Linked DNA regions of Homo sapiens: region 1 is linked to region 2. The links come from fine-mapping of genetic effects on gene expression. A gene starts in region 2. The other region holds a variant in brackets. All regions are shown on one strand. Distances are between the middles of the regions. Region 1 overlaps ELAPOR1 (endosome-lysosome associated apoptosis and autophagy regulator 1). Region 2 holds the start of SARS1 (seryl-tRNA synthetase 1).

Region 1 (11,854 bases), 49 kb after region 2:
AGTTCGAGACCATCGAGACCAGCCTGACCAACATGGTGAAACCCCATCTCTACTAAAAATGCAAAAATTAGCTGGGTGTTGTGGCACGTGGCTGTAATCCCAGCTCCTCAGGAGGCTGAGGCAGGAGAATCACTTGAACTTGGGAGGCGGAGGTTGCAGTGAGCCGAGATTGTGCCATTGCACTCCAGCCTGGGTGATAAAGCGAGACTCCATATCAAAATAATAATAATAATAGCCAGTTAAAGGAATCTCAGATTAGTCCACAGATTTCCCCCTGTGTTTGTCAGAATAACATGGTTATTTTCAGCTCTTTGACAGTCAGTGTTATTCTCAAAACGAAAACATATAACATGAGCTCATCCAAAATATCCCAGCTAACCTAACAGCATTGATTTCTCCTTGTTGAAAGGGATAACCTTTAATGCTGATATGCTCCACGACATCAGCTATAAATAACTCTTGAAGTTTAATAAATAATTTAAAAGATGCCATAAGTGGGTTACATTTGCAAAATGCATCATAATTCTGATTTTTGTCAGAATTGCCCCCGGTGAAGACATTTCATATTCAATAATAACAACATGTTTTGATTGATTTCTAGTGTCAGGCATCGCTCTAAATTCTTTACAAGTATCATCTCATCAATCCTTACCTCAACTATAAGAGTACTATTTTTATCATCATTTTTAGAATGAAGAAACTGAAGCCCAGAAGTGCTTAGGAAACTTACCCTAGGTCATCCAGTTGTGATCTGCATATAATGTTTTTCATTTTTAATGTTTACATTTCTCTCTCATTCTTGTTTCACTGTCACAGTCTTTGGGCGTCTGCTTGATCTTTTCCACTAATATATGACATTCTTTCTATTACACCCACGTCACTCCTGTTCCCTTAGCTTATCCTAGTTTCTGATCTCAGGCCAGTACCTTAGCCCTGGGACATCAACCCAGGACCCATGGGAGGATCCCTGAAGGCTCAGAATCCTGCCATGGAGACTCCGTTCAGCTGGTCTGTTTTGTCCCCAATTATTTATTTTGTCTATTTTGAGCCAGACACTATGTTAGATGCTGGAGACACAGTGATGAACAAGACAAGTATGATCCTTTCCCTCTTGGGGCTTGCATTCTCTTTCTAGTTGAGGAGACAGAAGCTTAACTAATCACACAATCACATAGCAATGACTGTGATAAGTGCCATTGGAGAAATGCAGGATGATAAAGAGAGTGTAACAGGAGTCTGTGGGGTCGGGGATGGTTTCTTTGAGGAAGGGATTTTTAGGTAGAGACCTGAGGGTTAAGTAGGAGACATAGAAGAGGGGACAGAGAGTCACATGTTCAAATGCCCTGAGGAGGGGAAGGAGTGTGATGGTCAGTGTGGCTGGAACACAGCAAGTGAAGACAGAAGGAACTTGGGAGAGGCTGGGGAAACAAGCAGAGGGCAGGGGGCAGGGCAGCAGGGCCCTGCAGGCTGTGGGAAGGTAGTGGACTTTATCCCAAGAGCAATTGGTAGCCATTGAATCTAGGGTTTTGAGCGGGAAAGTACTGTGACTGGATTTAAGGAGATGAGGCTGGGTGCAGTGGCTCACATCCGTAATCCCAGTACTTTGGGAGGTTGAGGCGGAAGGATCATTTGAGCCCAGGAGTTTGAGTCCAACCTGGGCAACATAAGTGAAACCGTGTCTCTAGAAAAATAAGAAGTTAGCCAGGTGTGGTGGCATGAGCCTGCAGTCCCAGCTACGCGGGAGGTTGAGGTGGGAAGATGGCTTCAGCCCGGGGAGGTTGAGGCTGCAGTGAGCTGTGATTGCGCCATTGCACTCCAGCCTGGGTGACAGAGTGAGACCTTGTTTCTTAAAAAAAAGAAAAAAGAAAGATGAATCTGGCTGCTGAGTGGACAGGCCTGGAGGAGGCTGGGAATGGAAGCAGGAGATGAGCTTGGAGTCTCTTGAGGCAGAGCAGGCAGGATTTGGGTAGCTGCACAGCTGAATAGGAAAGCCAAATACTTGCGCTCTAGGTATTAGCTCAATTATTGCCTTTCTGAGGGATGATGGGGAAACCACAAAAGCTCTCCAGATGGCCATTTCCTCTCCATTGACAGAGAAATATCCTCTCCCTCCCTCCCCGGGATGTCGTGGGATGCCTTAAGATGCAGGCCCTGAAATAGTCCGTGCGGTGGAAACACAAGTTGTTATTAACCCACCCACATCCTGCCTCTCTGAGAGATAATGATTTCTGGACTCTCGGTGCAGTCCCCAGAGAGAGAAGAAATCCTTCCTTTACATGGGTAGGAATTGACTGAGCCATGTCTGCACCTTGTCCAGGGCCTAATGACATTCTCAGTTAGGACTCAAATGGGAGTTGGTTGTCTTAACCCACACATTCCCGCTCCTTCCAGCTTTAAAGCTCTCTAGCTTTATCTCTGCCTCCAGTATTGTCATGCTAATGAATCTGACACACCAAGTTGAACTCTAAAATAACATAACATTAAAATTGGACTACAGATTAAATAGCCACTGCTTGGCTTAGACAAGATTTAAGTATAGGAATGGGAAACATTGCTCCCGGTTTTTAGAAATCCAAGTGTAATACAATTCTTGAGTCCTTCTTATCCATTTGATTGTTTGGGTATAAGTGAAACTTTCACTTGCTTTCCTCCTGTATTCACTGTCCATATTTAATAAGGAACAATATGGCTGCCTTTCACATCCTCATATCCCCCCACTTTCGCTCCCTAGGACCCAGTGTTGCCTTGCCCATAATAAATGTTATTTGAATGTGGCATTATGGAGCAGTGGAAGCTTGGGTTCGAATTTCAATCTCGCCGGCTGTAAACCGGATAACAAAGAGCAGGTCATAACCTTGCTGAGCTTCCAGTTCCTCGTCTCTGTAATAGAAATAGTAATGCCTATTTCACAAGGTTCTTGTGAGAATTAGAGAAAATAATATATGTAAAGCATCCAGAATAGTGCCTGGCCTACAAAAGACATATCTGAAATAGATATCCAGTTCTCCAAGCACCCTGGACTGAGCTTTCCAAGAAAATTTGCTAGTCATTGGGGTCTCACAGCATTTGGAAGATTTCAGCCAGCACTGGGCAAAGGCTAGGCAGAATCAGTTTCAGAAGTTAGCAGCCAAGGTGGCCCATGCCTGTAATCCCAGCACTTTGGGAGGCTGAGGCAGGTGGATCACCTGAGGTCAGGAGTTTGAGACCAGCCTGGCCAACATGGTGAAACCCCATCTCTACTAAAAAAATACAAAAAAATTAGCTGGGTGCGGTGGCTCACGCTGTAATCCCAGCACTTTGGGAGGCCGAGGCAGGTGGATCACGAGGTCAGGAGATCGAGACCATCCTGGCTAACACGGTGAAACCCCATCTCTACTAAAAATACAAAAAATTAGCTGGGCGTGGTGGCGGGTGCCTGCAGTCCCAGCTACTCGGGAGGCTGAGGCAGGAGAATGGCGTCAACCCGGGAGGCAGAGCTTGCAGTGAGCGGAGAGGGCACCACTGCATTCCAGCCTGGGTGACAGAGCGAGACTCCATCTCAAAAAAAAGAAAAAAAAAAAATTAGCCGGGCATTGTGGCACACACACCTGTAACCCAGCTACTCAGGAGGCTGAGGGAGGAGAAACACTTGAACCTGGGAGCTGGGGCTTGTGGCGAGCCAAGATGGCACCACTGCACTCCAGCCTGGGCGACAGAGTGAGACTCTGTCTCAAAAAAAAAAAAAAGAAGAAGAAGAAGAAGTTAGCACCCAAGCCGGGAAGATACCCAAGCTTTGCATATTGTGTTCCAGTCAAGCTGAGAAAGTATATTGGCTGATCTGAAATTCCGTGGTGGAAATCCGGTTGGTTTTTTTGGTTTTTGTTTTTGTTTTTCTTTTTTTTTTTTTTTTAAGACGGAGTTTCACTCTTGTTGCCCAGGCTGGAGTGCAATGGTGCGATCTCAGCTCACTGCAACTTCCGCTTCCCAGTTCAAGCGATTCTCCTGCCTCAGCCTCCCGAGTCGCTGAGATCACAGGTATGCACCACCAGGCCTGGCTAATTTTTTGTATTTTTAGTAGAGACGGGGTTTCACCATGGCCAGGTTGGTCTTGAACTCCTGACCTCAAGTGATCCACCCGCCTCGGCCTCCCAGAGTGCTGGGATTACAGGCGTGAGCCACCGCGCCCTGCCGGTTTTTGTTTTTCAATGAGACAGGGTCTTGCTCTGTTATCCAGGGGTACAGTGGTGCGGTCATAGCTCAGTCTAACCTTGAACTCCTAGGCTCAAGTTATCCTCTTGCCTCAGCCTCTCGAGTAGCTGGGACTACGGACATGCACCACCACACCTGGCAAATTTTTTAACTTTTTGTAGAGACAGGGGTCTCGCTATGTTTCCCAGGCTGGTCTCAAACTCTTGGCCTCAGGCAATCCTCCCACATTAGCCTCTCAAAGTGCTGGGATTACAGGGGTGAGTCACTGTGCCCAGCTCCAATTGGGTTTTGTTTTAAATAGACTGGGCCATTTAACCCTTGCCCCCCTTGTCCACTCTCTTATTTCCTCATGTTTTTTACCTCCCACAAATGCCTGTCCATCACTGGTAAGTTTAGGCCAGTAAGAGTGGGCCAGGCAGAGTCACATCCACTGGTCTTGCGGGCACAGCTGCAGGCCTCACCCTGGCAGCCTGGCTTCCTCTTCCCTCCATCCTCCCTGCCCAGCCTGAGGGGCAGCGGAGGAGGCTGTCCAGTGTGCCCTGTAGCCCCTTACCCAGTGGGCTGGGGGTGGGGTGGGGGTGTGTGCAGACTCACGAAGTACAGTTCCCGGTGGACTCAGCAGCACTGTCATCCAGCTCCATGTTGGCTGAGAGGCTGGCAAAGCCATGGGGCAGCTCATCCCACTCATCAAACCGAATGCCTGTGCCGAGGGAGTAGCGGCCCTCAGCGCATGGCTTACATGACTGGTCCTTCATATCCAGAAACTCCCCGGCGTTGCAGGAGAAGGCTGGAAAACAGGGCAGAGACAAGGTGGGGCAGTGAGGTCACTGCAGCCCCAGAAGTGAATGGGCTGCGAGCAGCTGAAGGGAGGAGCGCTGGGTTGGGGTCTAGGAGTTTGGCCCACTAAGATTTAGGGCCATGGCATTTACTGTGTGATTTGATTTTATTTTTCTTAAAAAAATTTTTTTTTCAGCAGTGATATTCCTTGCTATGTGTCATTCTATTTGTATGGAACGGCCAAAAGAGG[T/C]GAAGCCATAGAGACAGAAAGTAGATTTGTGGTTGCCAGGGGCTGTGGGGAGGGGCCTGGGGAGAGATTGCTAATAATATGAGGTTTCTTTTTAGGATGATTAAAATGTGAAATGAGAGTGATGATGGTTGCTGTGAATATTCTAAAAACCACTGAATTTTATCCTTAAAGGAATGAATTTCATGGCATATAAATTATATACCAATAAAGCTGTTATAAAAAAAATAGATCTAGGGCCACGGATGCTCTGCCTTGCTGTGGGACTTTGGGCTTGTTCCTGGCACTCGTTTCCTTTGGAGAGGTGCCCTGACCATTCTGAGAGCTCTCTGGTGAAGAAGATGCCAAGGTCTCTTGTGCTGACCCCTCTGAATGACACATGGCCCTTCAGCCTTGAATTTCTCCCTTGAGCCTCTGGCCTCTGCCTTTCTGGTTGTACTGCCACCATGCTAGGTGGAATTCTCATGACCTGTTAACTCAATCATTGCAATATCCTCCTAACTAGTTCCCTATTCTTATTTTTGCTCATTCTGTGGTCAGAGGTACCTTTCTAAAACAGATGTGATCAGGCACAGTGGCTCATACCTGTAAACCCAACACTTTGAGAGACCAAGGCAGGAGGATCACTTGAGCCCAGGAGTTTGAGGCCAACCTGGGCAACACAGTGAGACCCTGTCACTACCAAAAAAAAAAATGTTTAAATTAGCTGGGAGTGGTCGCGTGTGCCTGTAATCCTAGCTACTCAAAAGGCTGAGGTGGGAAAATTACTTGAGCCCAGGAGGTCGAGGCTACAGAGCTATGATTGCACCTCTGTACTTCAGCCTAGGAAACAGAGTGAGACCTTGTCTTTAAAAAAATAAAAAGTAAAACACGTATGTACTATTATTCTCCTTATTTTAAAAATAAACAGGCACTCCCTTTTGGTTCTAGAATTATGCTCTTGGCCTGGCATTCAAAGTTTTCCACGATTTCCCTGCAGCCTAACTTCCCAGCTTGACCTCCCACTACAAATCTTTTTTCACCTCAACTCCATCCATCACCTTCTCTGTGTTGCCTCTACCCTGGACCACAAGCTCTTCCTCAAATGTGTCACTCTTCATCCACGTCTAAACTTTTGCTCAAGTGGCCCTCCCAGCTATGCCTGATCCCTAAATATTCGTAACTCTCATTCTTTCTCATATCATATATGTCTGCCACCCACTAGGCTCTGCGCTCCTCTGGGGATGGCTGGCTCAGTGACTGGCACAGACTGGGAGCTTCATGAATGTTTCTGAAACAATGAGTGAATGAATGAATGTCTGCACTTTCCACCACCCTAAGCTTCTGAAAGCAGAGAGTGTGCCTTATTTGTCTTTGCAGTTCACACTGCATGTGCACATCATGGTGCTAACACATAGTGGGACTCACTGAAGTCAGCAGAGTTCAATGAAGATGGCTCATTTGTTTCCACTAGTCACACCTCAGTTCTGCTCAGGTCTCAGCAATATCCAGTCATTAATTTAACAAGTATTTATTTGCTCACTTACTCAACCAGGCACTGTACTAAGCTGATTTTAGAATTTAAATATCTTCAAACTCCTTTCCAACTCTTCAGATAATTCCTTAAATCTAGTGCCTGGTTTTTCTTGTTATTCCCTTTGCATTCCTAAAAGAATAATGCAGGGGAAACAGCTGCCAATTGTAGAAAAGTTGTGACTGCAGAGTCACAGAGGCGGGTGCTGGGGCTGCGGCAAGCCACTGCCTTTCCTATTGCACAATCAGACCCACAGTCAAGAAGATTCTTGTCTCCTGAAGTGATGCCTGGAGCATTTTAAAGGACGTCTCTGCAGAAACTTAGCCTCTCTGACTTCCTTTTTAAGAATGAAAGCAAATCTCAATCTTGCCTAATGACTGATTGTGGCTGGTGAGTGAGTGTAGATTGGAGAGACATACAAGGCAAAAATGAAAATGTATGCAAACAGAAAAGAATATCTGAGTGCACACAGCTGGCATTGCTTATGCTGTATCCACTGATGGGATTTAAATTCCTTTAAAAAATGAAAGCAAATTCAGATATCCAGTTTGCATTCATGAAATACTTCTGCACCAAATCTCATAAGGGTCTGGGATGTGGGGACTAATTGGGGAAAAGATCTGATTCCTTAATGCAGCTGCTCTGCCAGGAAGGGCCCAGATTGGATGGCAGGAGACTTGGGGGAGAGACCAAAGCTGAGTGACAGGGAGGCCCTGAGCAGGATAGCTGCTTACAGCACTCGGTGCCCTTGATGGGGTCAGGCAGGCTGGTGCACAGGCCCGGGGTATGCGGCACGGCGACCCTCCACCTGGAACCCGTGCTGTCACACGCCGTGTACTCATAGTGGTACTCAGACTGCAGGGGAGAGAACAGTGGGCGAAATGTGCATTAGCAGTGATCAAACATTAACAGCTTCCCACCCACTTCCCAGCACCATGGCTACTGATGCTCATCCTCTCAGAAATGGGCCCTGGGACCCCGGGCAGGGAGCTGATGATTATGAACCGAGTACAAGAACTACAATGATTTGGATCATTCCCTTCCACCCAGCCATGGTCTAGTCCCTAGAAATCATTTTTGTGTGTGACTCTCTTTGTTGTTATGTTTAAGTAGTGTCCTTATGGAGCAGAGGAACGTGGGAAAGGTAACTAAGGAACAGGCTAGAAATAGGTGGAATTTTTCTTATTCCAAAGTGTAGAATTTATGAACGAGGACATTCTAAATGGAAGGATGTTCTAAATGGAAGCCTTAGTCCACAAAAAATTTACAAAGGCTCCTCACAGAAGTGGTATGTATTTCTATTTCCCTGTGTTTCTTTTTTTTTTTTTTTTTTTTTTTTGAGACGGAGTCTCGCTCTGTCGCCCAGGCTGGAGTGCAGTGGGATGATCTTGGCTCACCGTAACCTCCGCCTCCTGGGTTCAAGCGATTCTCCTGCCTCAGCCTCCCGAGTAGCTGGGACTACAGGCGAGTGCCACCACGCCAGGCTAATTTTTGTATTTTTAGTAGAGACGGGGTTTCACCATGTTAGCCATGCTGGTCTCAAACTCCTGACTTTGTGATCCACCTGCCTTGGCCTCCCAAAATGCTGGGATTACAGGCATGAGCCACCACGCCTGGCCCTATTTCCCTGTGTTTCTTATGCTCCTTTCCACTCAGAAAGACTATGAATTCCCAATTGCATTTTATGAAAATATATTTGGCCGAGGCAGGTGATGTGCTCTCACTTGAGCCTGTTCATCCCTAATTTGTCTGTGCAATGGGAAACTCATAGTTTAATTGTTTTACCTGAGCTAAAAATAAATGGAATAACAACAAAACAACCAAATCAAGCATTAAGTAAAACAACAACAACAAACAGTTCCACTCAGAACAAAGAAAACACAATTGATGTGCCAAATGCCCTTAAGCGTTTCTTCCTCCTTTAAATCTGGTAATAAACAACAGACCATGGAATTAGTGATGATTTTGGCTCTGACAAGTATTTTACAATCTACACTTACCTAAAACTATATTCAAGCCCAGAGGTATTTTGTATTACTGTATGCATAAGAAAAATAGAATTAATGTCCCCCTTTAACCCACGTGATAGCCTGATTGCATAACATGTATAACGTCAAGGAGCTAAGACAAAAAATACAAGTTTTGAAGTTTGCTAATCTAATAATGCGTCAGGATCAAAAGGAATAAGCTTTATTTTTGGGGATAGGTAAACACACTGCATTTCATCTATTCCAAGATGCACGCTTTTTCCACATCTAACATCTATGAAATCAAGACGTGTCTTAAAATTGACACAGTAAGGAAGAATTGTGTTATGTTTTAAGGGATAGAGAGCTTTTTCTTTCTTGATGACACATTAAAAAAATGGTGTCTTAGAAGCAGTGGCATTTCAGACTTGTTGCAATATGGTAAAGATGTAGTTTCTTTTCTTTTTTTTTTTTTTAGACAGTCTCTTGCTCTGTCACCCAGGCTGGAGTGCGGTGGCGTGATGATGGCTCACTGTAATCTTGACTTCCTGGGCTCAAGTGATCCTCCCACCTCAGCTTCCCAAGTAGCTGAGACTACAGGAGCCACTACATGCAACACCATGCCCAGCCAATAGATTAACTCTTGACCAGAATCTTTGGCTTTGGATGTAGATGTCAATGTCATCTAGGAAAGAAAGAACATCAGGATGGGAATTCTTTGTGCCCTCTCTGGGTCTATTTTTCCCAATAATTCTTGTCTTTTCCTCATCTCAGACTCTGAGGACAAATAGGGCAACTATACATATATGATGTCAATCCACTTCTTAAAATGATACTCTCAAAAGGGTTTTGCTGCAAGAATGAGGGGTAAAATCCACTGTGTATAAATTAAATGGAGAATTGAGTGAGCAAGGCAGAAAGGACTGTGTGGTGCTTCTGAACATATTCATGCTGGTCTTTTGTGTAGTGTGTTCACAGTTCCCAAATACCATCTCGTTTCATCTTCACGACTCCCTATAAGGCAAGTAGACCAGGGGTTGTTTCCTTCATTGTACAGATGAGAAAATGACTCTCAGTGGTGTGATAGCTTGTCCAAAGTCATGCAGCCGATAAGTCACTGAGCTAGAAACCAGGCCTTCCCACCAGGAATCCTCCTCCACCCTTATAGACTCTGACCAAACACAGACTCACACAGGGCCAAATTTAACAGCCAAATCTAAAAATTAAACATGACAGTGTTGGTTGTGTGCCAGCAGCCAGGCTCACTTCTGAGGCCCAAGAATTGGTGTTAAAATATCTAATCTGTTCGAAGATCATCTCAGTTCATTCTGACTGCATTGGCCTCTTAGAGGCACATGGGCCAAATCCATTACTTTTCATCGTCTTTCATTTGATGTCCCCTGGGTCTCACTCAGGTGGGAGGTTTGCTGAGGAAATGGTGGTTCCAAGCCTAAGAAAATTTCCCTTTCAATATATGCTCATTTACTTCATGCCACTTGGGGATATTAATTCAAGGTGGCTGGTTCTAATACACCTGTTTCAAATCTGAACTACACTTTGAGATCACACCATTCAAGACATAAGCTTAGGGCGGGGCACGGTGGCTCACGCTGTAATCCCAGCACTTTGGGAGGCCAAGGTGGGTGGATCACCTGAGGTCAGGAGTTTGAGACCAGCCTGACCAACATGGTGAAACTCTGTCTCTACTAAAAATACAAAAATTAGGTGTGGTGGCACGCGCCTGTAATCCCAGCTACTCAGGAGGCTGAGGCAAGAGAATCGCTTGAACCTGGGAGTGGGGGCAGAGGTTGCTGTGAGCCAAGATCACGCCACTTTACTCCAGCCTGGGCAAAAAAAGCAAGACTCCGTCTAAAAAAAAAAAAAAAAAAAGACATAAGCTTAGAGAGAGTTAAACCAGGGATAGAACTGGCAGGACTCCTCAATTATATTCAGCGTTCTGCAAACACATCAATTCCCTGACAGTTTACTCAGTGATCTGTTACTCAGTTTACTCAGTGATCTGTCTGAAAGTATATAATTTGCATAAAGTGCAGGTCTACAAAGGAGCACATAAACACGTTCAGTATATACATCCAGCACGTAACTCCTTCCCCCTCCCTGTGCACAATTCTATGACGCACACCCAAATTACACTGCTAAATGGGACACAGCAGGCAGTGGGTGCTGCCTGTTCATCAGAAAAACAAAGGAAGGGTTTAGAAATGAGAGGGTGGGGAACTGTAGTTAGCGCATCCTTCCGTAGCGTCACCCAGCCATGTAATACTCCTGGGCACATGAGAAGGAAGAGGAAAAAAACCCTGAAACTGGAATATGCTTTGCCTGTATTGACTGATCTGTCGGTAACACTGATCTTTCAGTTCTAGAAGAATTCACTCAGACTCACAATATTTTTAGTCCTTACTGTCTAGGTATTGAATGGACTGCTGAAATGACCAAAAAAAAAAAAAAAAAGAAAACTGTCAAGTCAGGATGGTATCTGGATGGAAATCTGTCCTTCCTTCTACCTTCCCACCACTTGCTTTCAAAATAGTATCTGTTACTTTTAAAAATGATTATCAAAGTAACAGTTTAGAGGCCAGACGCAGTGGCTCACACCTGTAATTCTGGCACTTTGGGAGGTCAAGGTGGGCGAATTACTTGAGGTCTGGAGTTTGAGACCAGCCTGGCCATCATGGTGAAACCCCGTCTCTACTAAACATACAAAAATTAATCGGTCGTGGTGGCATGTGCCTGTAGTTCCAGCCACTCAGCAGGCCAAGGTGGGAGGATGACCTGAGCCTGGGAGGTTGAGGCTGCAGTGAGCCGTGATTGTACCACTACATTCCAGCCCAGATGACAGAGTGAGACCCTGTCTCAAATAAAAAAAGGAACTGTTTATAGACTAGAGATTGGAGGTAATCTATGGGTTAGATGCTAGAGCTGTACTTCATTACCATCCACTGTGGAAGATGAATAAGGTTTAAGCTGGTTAGCTGATGACAGAGATGTGGTCCACAATTCAGGTGGAGGAGAGTCCTAGGGACTGGGTTAGCCTCTTTCATGTGCCCTAAGTAAATAGGCAAATTAGAAGTGATCCCACCGCCCCTTCCCACATGGTGCTTGACTTCCCTAAGCCATAGCTGCCTCATTGAAAAATGGGGA
Region 2 (11,409 bases):
CCGAGTAGCTGGGACTACAGGCGCCCCCCACCATGCCCGGCTAATTATTTTTGTATTTTTAGTAGAGATGGGGTTTCACCGTGTTAGCCAGGATGGTCTCGATCTCCTGACCTTGTGATCTGCCTGCCTCGGCCTCCCAAAGTGCTGGGATTACAGGAGTGAGTCACCGCACCGGGCTAGTTTCAGTAATTTAAAAATACTGATTATGTGTTGAAAATATAATTTCGGGGCTGGGCGTGGTGGTTCACACCTGTAATCCCAGCAGTGTGGGAGGTCGAAGTGGGAGGATCACTTGAGTCCAGGAATTCGAGACCAGCCTGGGCAACAAAGTGAGACTCTGTCTCTACAAAAAATTAAAAATTAGCTGGGCATGGTGGTGCACACCTGTGGTCCCAGCTACTTAGAAGGTTGAGGTGGGAGGACCAGTTGAGCCCAGGAGGTCCAGGCTGCAGTGAGCTGTGATCATGCCACTGCATTCCAGCCTAGGCAACAGAACAAGACGCTGTCTAAAAATAATAATAATAATTATATATATATTTATATATATATAACTTTTGGGTATACAAGACTAGGTTAAATAAAATGTATTACTAAAATTAATTTCATCTGTTTCTCTTTATATTTTTTATATTGGATACAAACAAATTAACAATTACAGACTATCGCCAACTTATAATGCTTAAACTTTATGATCAATAGTAATAAATTACATGAGATATTCACACTTTATTATAAAATAGGGTTTGTGTAAGATGATTTTTCCCAACTGTAGGTTAACATCAGTGTTCTGAGCACATTTAAGGTAGGCTTGGCTAAGCTATGATATTCAGTAGGGTATGTGTATTTCATGCATTTTTTACTTACAATATTTTCAACTTATGGTGGATTTATTGGGACATAAACCCATCCTAAGTCAAGGAGCATCTGTATACATGAAGCTAACATTCTATTCCTATCAGACAGTGCTGCTCTAAAGTATGTCACTGCAAAACTTAAGCCTTCAAGTAAAATGATCAGATTTGCATTCTAGAAAGATTATATGCCCTGGTGAGACTGGGTTAAGATTGAAAGCAGATAGAAAGCTATTCCAGTTGCTGGGGCAAACAATGATAAGGACCTGTTTTAAAACATGTGCAGTAAAGGTTATGAGGAAATAACAGCTTTAGCCTGGGCATGGTGACTCATGCCTGTAATCCCAACACTTTGGGAGGCCGAGGTGGGAGGATCGCTTGAGGCCAGGAGTTTGAGGCCAGCCTAGGCAACATGACGAAACTCCATCTCTACAAAAAATACACACATTAGCCAGGCATGGTGGCATTGCGCCTGTAGTCTCAGCTAGTCAGAAGTCTAAGGCAGGAGGATCATCTGAGCCTGGGGAGATTGAGGCTGCAGTGAGCTGTGATCATGCCTGGGTGACACAGTGAGACCTTGTCTCAAATTAAAAAAAAAGGAAACAACAACTTCAATTTTCAATGTACAGTAAAAAGAAAAAAAAAACCACTCAGGATAGCACTTTTTGAGGGAGGATAAAATTCTTGGGGTTTGCAGCAGATTTCCAGTTACATGGAAATCTATTTGCTTTGGGAGTGGGGCCAAGACAAATATGCCCAAGTGTAGGATCATTACGCTACTCTGAATTAAAAAGAAGAAATCACATTCAAATCCCTGGAGTTAGAAGAGTTGTGAGTTCCAATGTGGTATTATCACTCCAAGTTATACTGGACTCCTGAGTTCTCCAAAGGAACCCTAGTGGTACCTTGTAAGTCTACAGGAAGACAAATTGGTATAGTTGTAGTGGAGGGCTTGGTGAAGCTTGCTATGTGTCCTCAATTAGGGAGCATGATCTGAGTTCTTAATGTGGCTCTGGTTATAAGCCCTTGCTCAAGGCAATGAGAGAAGAACTCCATCCTCTGATCTGAAGTTCAAGATGTCAAAGAACCTTGATATAAATCTGCCAGTGTCTACCTTGGGCAGTTGGGAACTTGGGAAAAAACATAAATTCCATTTGGATGCAAAGAGAATATTGGAAAGGGTTGTCAAATAGAAAAGAATCAAATTAATAGATGCATTGGAAATAAACTATTGGCCAGGCATGGTGGCTCACACCTGTAATCCCAGCACTTTGGGAGGCTGAGGCAGGCGGATCACTTGAGGTCAGGAGTTAGAGACCAGCCTGGCCAACATGGTGAAACTCCCATCTCAACTAAAAAAAAAAATTAGCTGGGTGTGGTGGTGCACACCTGTAGTCCCAGCTACTTGGAGGCTGAGGCATGATAATCTCTTGAAACCGGGAGATGGAGGTTGCAGTGAGCCGAGATGGTGCCACTGCACTCCAATCTGGGTGATAATGAGAGACTCCGTCTCAAAAACAAAACAAAACAAAACAAAGAAAAGAAATGACTTCACATTTAGGATTAAGTTTTTTAAAACAATAACATAAACTACATAAACTGCTTTTCATAAAGAATATAAAGTGCCCTGAAGACAGAAAATATTCACGCCTCTAACAAACCTTTATCAAGGCCTTACCAAGGACCAGGTACAGTGCTAGGTACTGGGATTTTATGTATAAATGTGTATATGTATATCCACATATATACTGTATGAATAAAATTGAATCCTTGTCCCTGAAGAACTCACCACCTATCTACTTTTCAGATAAGGGACAAATCCCTCAGATGTGGACATTATACCCAAAAGACTAGCTAACACATTCAAAGTCATTTAGCACTGGCTAAGGGCTGGACTGACACAAAAATCTGATACTCCTGACTTCAGATTCAGTAGAACAGTGCTCAGGCTAGTTTTATCCTAAACAAAAAATGTGGCAAAATTAAATTCCATTGCAACTCGAAACTTCAGGTCAAGTGTGGAATCTCACAATCAAACAAACTACTACAATAGAGGGCCTAAGACATAGAATCAGCACAAAACTCAAGTTAAACAAATATTCTTTTGACATCCAAGATCCTTATAAACAGGAGAAAATCAATTTTCCTAATAGAAATCCATCACACTCTTGGATAGTGGCTGCCTTTGCAGTGTACTGTCATCGACCTAGCTCCCAGATGGTTGCAGACCTATTGCATCAGACAAATCAAATCACAAGTACTTGACAGCATCCGCCCAACCAGCGACCACTCCAGTTAATACAGGCAGAGATTTATGGGCAGATGGTTCTATGGTTTTATTCGGCTTCATGATAGATGCCCGATATGACTCCAAGATCCGGCAGTTCCAGGTTCTAGCCCAACTCTGCCAATGTCTTTAAAGGAAAACGTCCACAAATCACAATTAAACAGCTTCAGTCATTACAATCTTTTGCTCGCCTCCTCACTCCCCTCGCGTTTGATCTACCACGGAAAAGACTTTTCTAATTCTTAAAGGTATGCCCATAGGTCGGGGGATGGCCTTCCGAAAAGCTTCAGGGTCATTTATTTTGGCCAAGAGCGGCCTCCAACGCCCCGAAATGCTTCCGATACCGAAGGAATGAATCTACTGTGTTGCAGAAGTGACGCAGTCTCAGGAGAAGCCTTTGATCCTATCAAAACAAAGGAAAACCACTCTGGCCTTGCTGAAGATGAGAAAAAGACTGGGGGGGACCAAAGATTCGTGTTAGGAAAGCCGCGTAGACCCCACAACCTCCCGCCCCGGCATGTTCTGGCAACCCCTGGGGCAGGAAGGCTTGACAGCTCCCGATGCGCGTGCGTACGCACACTGGCAGCGAACGGCACTGAGCACGCGTGGAAGGGACCTCGCTCCGCCCGGGTGGAGGAGAAAGTGGGATGACCCCGGCGACCAGGCTGTGTTTTCGGGGATGGGGAGAACCTCGGAGCCACCGCACCCTGGGAGGGGGTCTGACGAAGGGTGGAAGCTGTGGCCTCAGGAGCGGTGGCTGGATTTGAGAGAGAAAATTGGGTTTAGCATCAAGGAGGTAACCCGCCCGTCCCGGTACTTACATCGTCGCCACTCGCTGTCTGCCTTCACCAGCTGGTCCACTAGTCCCGGGTCCTTGAAGCGCTTCTCCTGCGTCTCTCGGATGAGGGCTGGGTCCCCTCCTTTATCCACCCGAAACAAATCCAGATCCAGCACCATCTTCTTTCCTCCCGGGCCAACGCTCAGGGAAGCAAGGATCGCGCCGCAGCACTCAGCCTGTGACCGCCGCACTGCGCCGGCGCGCTGACCCGCCCTTCCTGCGCAGGCGCAGCTGGAGCCCGCAGGCGACCCTCCCCGCGACCGGAAGCGGCTGGTTGGAGGCGGGGCCGCGGAGGGAGGGGAGGGGAGAGTGGGTGGGCGTGGGACTATACCTCTGGTTCCTGCTCCCCAGCTCTGCTACAGTCTGCAGGAACTGTGATCGCCACATAAAAGTGTGAATGCCTCAGTTTCCTACTCCTGTCTCAGGCTAGGCAGAGGCCTGTCCCCTCATCCCTAGCTTAGAGGCCGGGGCCTTCACCAGGTGCCCGTTTTCCTCTCACTAGGTTGGGTTCTTCCACTGGGCTCTTTCCCTGAACCTCGGCCGTCTTCTCCATCTTGATACAAGAGGATGGCATATTTAGTCCCAGGGCTACCTCAGCTTAAGATTCCTGCTCTCGTGCCTTAGAAATGGTATACCTTTATTAATCTGATTATTGGATAAACCAAATTGTCACTTTACCAACTCTTAAGAGCACAGCTTTGGGAAAGTGCGGTTGTCTTTTAGAGAGAGACGAGAGAAAACTTTTCCAAAGGGACATTAAGCAGATTTGAACGCCGTATAAGGTGTTGAGGTCATGTCTTGGGTCAATTTGAAAGCGTCTTGAAGAACGGTTTGTATCATACTTTGATTTTATAATGTTCAGACCTTTAAATGAAATATTCTAGTTGCCGAGTGAAGCCAAAGTTATCAAAGAATCTCCCTGATAACAAGAGATTATTTGAAGGATTTGGGAACAGGTGATCTCCTCCCCCACCCCCACCCCCAATCCTTCCACTCTGCAGAAACTTTAAAGCCTCACTTCCAATGCCTTCTCGAAGCTAGATGTGCTAAGACCTTCTTGATCTTATACCGCCGTCATGGACTCCTGAGATGAGGGTGTGACATAGCTAACTATCATATTATTTATTTATAATATGAAATATATTTGGGCTTTGTCCCTGGTTCCTGACACAGCCCCTAAAACCCTTGAATTTCCTGGGTTATACGTAATGGGTCTCTTTGATAACACCTGAGTTTATAATAAGGAGGTGATTTAGGATGGGGGCCCTAGATAACCTTAGGATGGGGCCAGTCACCAGAGAGACCAAGTGATTGGAGGATTGGAACTTTCATCCCCACCCTTCAACCTCCAGGAAAGGGGGAGGGGAGGAGCTGGACATCAAACTCTATAAACGCTCGAACAACAAGAGTTGATGAGCTTCAGGGTTGTTGAACATGTGGAGATGCCAGGAGGGTGTCTTGCCCAGAAAGGTTATGGAAGCTCTGCACCCCTGACACCTTGCCCTATCCATCTCTTCATCTGGCTGTTCATTTGTACCCTTTGTACTATCCTTTATAATAAACTGGTAAATGTTTCCTTGAGGTCTGTGAGCCTTCTCAGCAAATTAATCAGACCAAAGGAGGGGGTAGTGGGAGCCCCAGTTTATAGCTGCTAAGAAGTATAGGTGAAATCTACTACTTGCAATTGGCATCTGAAGAGGAGCAGTCTAGTGGGATCAAGCCCTTACCCCATGGAATCTGACACTACCTCCAGGTAGCTAGTGTCAGAATCAGAATCGAATTGAATTATAGAATGCTTAGCCAATGTCCACTGGAGAATCGCTTGGTGTCTGAGGAACTTACCCCCCAGGGCCCCTCACCACTGCATCTGGTCACAGAAATGTTGTGTGTTGAGTGTGGGTTTTTGTTTTTGTTTTTTGTTTTTTGTTTTTTTTTGCCTCTTACACTATCCCTGCTCCCCAAAAAGCCTCTGCCAAGCCAACCCTGAAGTGTAGGTCAGGTCTAACAACAATGATAGAGCTAAGTAGAGACCCTGAGGGAGGCAGAGGAAAGGGGCTTGTCTGGGTGTGCTCTCCTTGGTTCAACCTGCCTATGGTATTAGATTTAAAACCAGTGGAAAGGAAGGGTGAGGAGCTGCAGTCTTGGAGGAAAACATCTAAGAAGACTCTCCTCAAAGTGTTGGGTTCCCTAAAACCTTCTGAGGGCAAGGTCTGTGATGGGGGCGCTCCCTGCTTCCATGTCATTGAAGGCACCGCCAAAGTGTATTGCCAATTAAGTTTCTAAAACAGTGGCAGGTGTTTCTGAGGCTGAAGTGATCCCAGGCCTAGGGGAGGAGGGCCACTGGGTCAACCCTTTAGGAAGGTCATCAATGTCATTCAACAAGTGATCTTGAAATTCTGATCTCTCCAAATTTATTCATGCATTTTTACAATTGATCTTATCATTAGATTACAAACATCTCCCTTTAAAATGTTCATATGGGCGGGCGCGGTGGCTAATGCCTGTAATCCTAACACTTTGGGAGGCCAAGGTGGGTGGATCACCTGAGGTCAGGAGTTCGAGACCAGCCTGGCCAACATGACAAAATCCCGTCTCTACTAAAAATACAAAAATTAGTTGGGTGTGGTGGCACATGCCTGTAATCCCAGCTACCTGGGAGGCTAAGGTACAAAAATTGCCTGAACCCAGGAGGCGAAGGTTGCAGTGAGCTTAAATCACGCCACTGCACTCCAGCCTGGGTAACAGAGTGAGACTCTGTATCAAAAAAAAAAAAAAAAAAGTTGATGTTACCTGATGAGTATAATAAATTAACATAATAGCATACTTCATCAGCTTAGAATCGTGGGATTTTTAGAGTTGGAGGGGAGCTTCAGCTATCTGTTAACTTAATAATTCCTGATTTTTTCATCACCTTGTCCCTCATGTTTTGAAATATTTTTGTCTAATGAACATGATTTTTAAAAAATAATAATTTGCCTTTTTTATTAATCAGATCTATATGGCTGCCACCTAGAAATTCTGATCAGCAGGAAATAGGCAGTGTTACTGCACCAAGTAACTCCTGCCAGAAGCTAACGCAAAAACAAATCAACATAAAAACTTTCGTTATGGAGTGATGGTGTGAAGCCCTGCCACCTTTGAATATGTGATTTCTGTTAACCCTTACTACCAAGAATGCTCTTGGGCACTGCCTCTGAGGACTGAAGTGCTCAAGAAGCCCTGACTGGAAAACAGCCAGCCAGGCTAACCCTTTTATTTTCTATATAAGGAAACAGCCCCAGAGAAGATAAGTGATGGAATCAAAACCAGGACACAGGTAAATACCTAAGATAGCCTAATGTTTGGGCTTTGCCCTTTTAGTAGCAATCCTTAGCAGAAAACAGGTCAGTGAGGACCCTGACTATGCTATGGGGCCTGATCTTATAGGGCAGAGACCATTGCGTATTTGCATTTTTCTCCCCACGGGACCTAGCACCCTGCCTTACCCATGGTAAGTGCTTGTTACATCCTCCCTGAGTGAGTGGGTTGCGAGGAAGTAGGCTGAGAGGATGGGAGCTTGTTGCAGGTCAGCGAGCAGAGTCCTGGGTGAAGATACTGCCTTGGGGATCCTGGGCAGCTAGTGGGCAGCCTAGGGGAAAAGAGCAACTGCAGAGACGGAGCAAAAAAAGCGGGTGTGAGGCACCCAACAAAAGCTGCCTACCTCAGTTTTCCCAGTTTGGAGCTGGCTAACTCGGAAGGGTTCTCTGAGGCCTCACTGTGGCAGCCCTTTGTGTTCCTCTGTCTTGGATTTGGAGTAGGGTTTCTCAATGTTCACCGAACAAGTCCGGTCCTGTCACTCCCTTGCTAGAAGTCTTCTGTGGATACCTGTTACCCTCAGGGGAATCCAAACATGGCTGGCAACGCTATATATGATCTGTCCCTACCAGCTTCTCTAACATGTTCCCTCTTTATCTCGTGTGTGTGTGTGTGTGTGTGTATGTGAGACTGAGTCTCACTCTGTTGCCCAGGCTGGAAAACAGTGGTACAACCATGGCTCACTGCAGCCTCGACATTTCCAGCTTCAGGGGATCCTCCCACCTCAGCCTCCCGAGTAGCTGAGACTACAGATGTGTGCCACCATGCCCCAGGCAATGTTTGTATTTGTTTTTGTTTTGGTAGATACAGGGTTCTGCCATGTTGCCCAAGCTGGTCTCGAACTCTTGGGGTCAAGCAATCCACCCACTTTGGCCTCTTAAAGTGCAGGGTTTACAGGCATGAGCCACCTCACCTGGCCCTCTTTATCTCTTAACATTTCCCCCTCGTATTCCCCATTCCAACCTTCTTGTGGCTCCCTTCCTTCCCTCTGAGCCTTTGGTTGCACAAGTTCCTTCTACCTGGAACTCCCTTTCCCTTCTCTGTTCCTCTTACCTGGCTAATTCCTCCTTTCTCCTGGAAGCCTTCTCTTACATCCTCTTTACCCCTCCCTGCAAATTGGTTAGACACCCTTCCCGTTTCCCACAGTACAGTAGTATTGATGATACTGTTTCAGGAGGAACTGACAACCCTGCCTCCAGTTCTGGCTTACCCACTCCCTTCTATCAGAGAGACACAGTAACAAAGGAGGTCCACGTTGCTATCCTTCAGCAACTAAGCAGGAATCATTTAAAAATAGCGTGGGTCGGGGAAAGCTGCCAGGACTTGGAGGGACTTTGATCCAGCCTCTCCATCTGATAGAATTGGGGTGCGAAATCAATTCTCCCACCACACTGTATCTTACGGTAGTCTCCAGTGGATGCCTGAAACCACGGAGAGTACGGATCCCTACATATACTGTGCTTTTTCGATCTGGTAACTCAGATGGCTGCTAAGTGAGTAATGGGTGGATAGTGCAGACAGTATGGATACTCTGGACAAAGGGATGATTCATGTCCCAGGTGGGAAGGAGTGAGATGGCACAAGATGTCATTATGCTACTCATAATGGCATACAATTTAAAACTTATAAATTGTTTATTTTTGGAATTTTCATTTAATATTTTTTGACTTAAGTTGACTTTAGGTAACTGAAACTGTGGAAAGTGAAAGTACCGTTAAGGCTGAACTACTCTATAGGGAATTGCATTTTATGTGGGATTGTTAACTTTGGCACTGAGACAAAATTAGTTTATATTTCAAATTCTCCTTGAATAGCTCTTAAAAACCCTAAATCAGTTTCTCTATCTCTTAATACTCATTGTTGCTCTATGCTTCCCAGTTAATTAATTGTCTTCCTTAAGATTTAGACCAAGTCGTAAGTATATTCTTGCCTGGTCACCTGATAATGTATTTTACTTCTTTGTCAGTGATTGGGAAATTCTTAAAATCATTTCCATATCATTACACACCCCTCTCACTGCCCCGCAGTTTCAAGCTTGATTGTGTCTGTTGCTTGTTTGTTGCATTGCACAGTACACGGTTGTATTCATAAAGATTCATAGCGGTACTCCCATGGGACTGTTTTTGCCCTGTTATTTCCCACAGTGGGGTGACGTGGAAGGCTGAGTGGGATCTGTGAGGTGAAAAGGAAGCAGAGGGGCAGAGAGGAGAGCATATTCCAATGCTGGAGGCATGAAGGTGCTTATGACTCAGAGACCATCAAAAGCTCAGTGTGGTTAGAGTAGAAACAATGTTGGGAAGGTGGGCCGGTGGGCCGTTAGGGACCCTGTAGGCCACGTAACTGAATCTATTGGAGACACAGTTTCTTCCTCTATTGTAATGGGTGTAATGGGGATAGTAGCTGCCTCCAGGGCTGTTCTGAAAATGAAAAAAGGCAATGCTGTGAAAGCATTAAGTCCAGGCTTGACACAGATGCCAAACGAATGCGTTTTCTTTTCTACTTACCTTCTTAGAGTTTGGACTGTATGTTATAAGCAGGGGTGATGTTCAAAATATTTAACCACCAGTACAACCCAGGTACCACCCAGTCAAAGTAGATGTGGGTCATAAACAACCAGCCTTGGAGTGTAGGTGAGCTGCTGCCAATTGCTCCTGCCTGACAGCAATAAGGAGCCATCAGAGATGGCACATTTGAGTGCCATCAGATGTGTTAGAAAAACGGCTCTGAGTGTTCCAGCTCTTGTAGAATTTTTTTATTTTTTTTACAGACAGGGTCTGCCTCTGTCACCTAGGCTGGAGGGCAGTGGTGCAATCCACCATCATAGCTCACTGCAACCTCAACCTCCTGGCCTCAGGCGATCCTCCAGCCTGGCCCTCCCAAAGTGCTGGGATTACAGGCATGAGCCGCCACACCCTCTTTTAGAATTTGGTTAGCAGGTTTTCTGCCTTTTACCAGAAAACTTTTCATGAAAAAAAGAAAAAGAGCTCTGGCTACAGAGCAGGGGGGTGATACTGGTGTGGGAAGCACTGGCGCGGAGAGGCCTGTTAGAAGACTAGAAATTACCTAAGGACCCTGACGAAGAACATCTGGCACTTAGTGCCATTCAGTCTGAAAAGTGTGACATTCCCAACTCATCTATTAATAGCTGAGAGAATTATTTTTGGGGATCAAGTGCCCTCAACTAGAATAAAGTCCTGAAGCAGAAAAATCCTGCCAGGCACGCTGGCTCATGCCTGCAATCCCAGCACTTTGAAGGCCAAGGTGGGCAGATCTCTAGAACCCAGGAGTTTGAGACCAGCAACATGGTGAAACCCTGTCTCTCCAAAAAATACAAAAATTAGCCAGGTGTGGTGGCGCATGCCTGTAGCTACTCAGGAGGCTGAGGTGGGAGGATCACTCAAGCCCAGGAGGTTGGAGCTGCAGTGAGCTGAGATTGTGCCATTGCACTCCAACCTAGGCAACATAGTGAGCCTCAGAAAAAAAAAAAAAAAAAGAAAGAAAGCAAAAATCTAGCAACCTCAGGAAATGGTAGGCCCTTGATATCATCTAGGATTTTCTCCACATCTAGTCTGTAATAATCTACTTCATACCCAAAGAAGCTAATTTTGCTTCTATTTGTGGATTTATTGTTATGTGGCTGGCCTCATGTTTCCTGAAAGAAACCTGAGCAGAAGGGAAGGGAAGTAGCATGCGAAGTGGTTTATGAGTTATTTCTTTTGAGCTCATTCAATCTTGGTGTGTTGGGTATCATTAGATGCATTTTATTATTGTGGAAACTGAGGCTTTGGTTATTGACTGATTCCTCAACAAGTAGTGGGAGGCTTCTAGCCTATGTCCATCTTGTTCCAAAGTCTGTGCTCTTTTCTCTGCCTCTCTGCGAATGTGGAATCCTTCTCCTTTTCAGTTTAAGCTTCCAGGACACTTACATTTCCCACTCACCCCTCCAGCCACCCAACCCATGTTTAAGAAAAACAACTTGTAAGGTATGTTTTTATTTTACAAAAAAAAAAAGTGACATGCAATAACCCATCTTCTAACAAACTATTAACGCTTGGATTACAGGGTAAAAAGGAAATCCA

What was found.
Region 1: its variant is fine-mapped to the expression of SARS1 in whole blood (INTERVAL, PIP above 0.99).

The regions. Positions count from the first base shown.
Region 1 is chr1:109,157,620-109,169,473 of GRCh38, reverse strand. ELAPOR1 (endosome-lysosome associated apoptosis and autophagy regulator 1) reads right to left here. Exons shown (of 22, transcript NM_020775.5): 2 at 7,460-7,580; 3 at 4,783-4,975. Among named protein-coding and RNA genes, the nearest start is that of ELAPOR1, 49 kb to the right of the region's middle. The variant T/C (reference allele first, on the strand shown) is at 5,216.
Region 2 is chr1:109,206,679-109,218,087 of GRCh38, reverse strand. SARS1 (seryl-tRNA synthetase 1) reads right to left here and starts at 4,170. Exons shown (of 11, transcript NM_006513.4): 1 at 3,960-4,170. The coding sequence starts at 4,095. ELAPOR1 (endosome-lysosome associated apoptosis and autophagy regulator 1) reads right to left here. Exons shown (of 22, transcript NM_020775.5): 22 at 11,307-11,409. RefSeq lists an enhancer at 3,747-4,106 and a silencer at 4,157-4,376.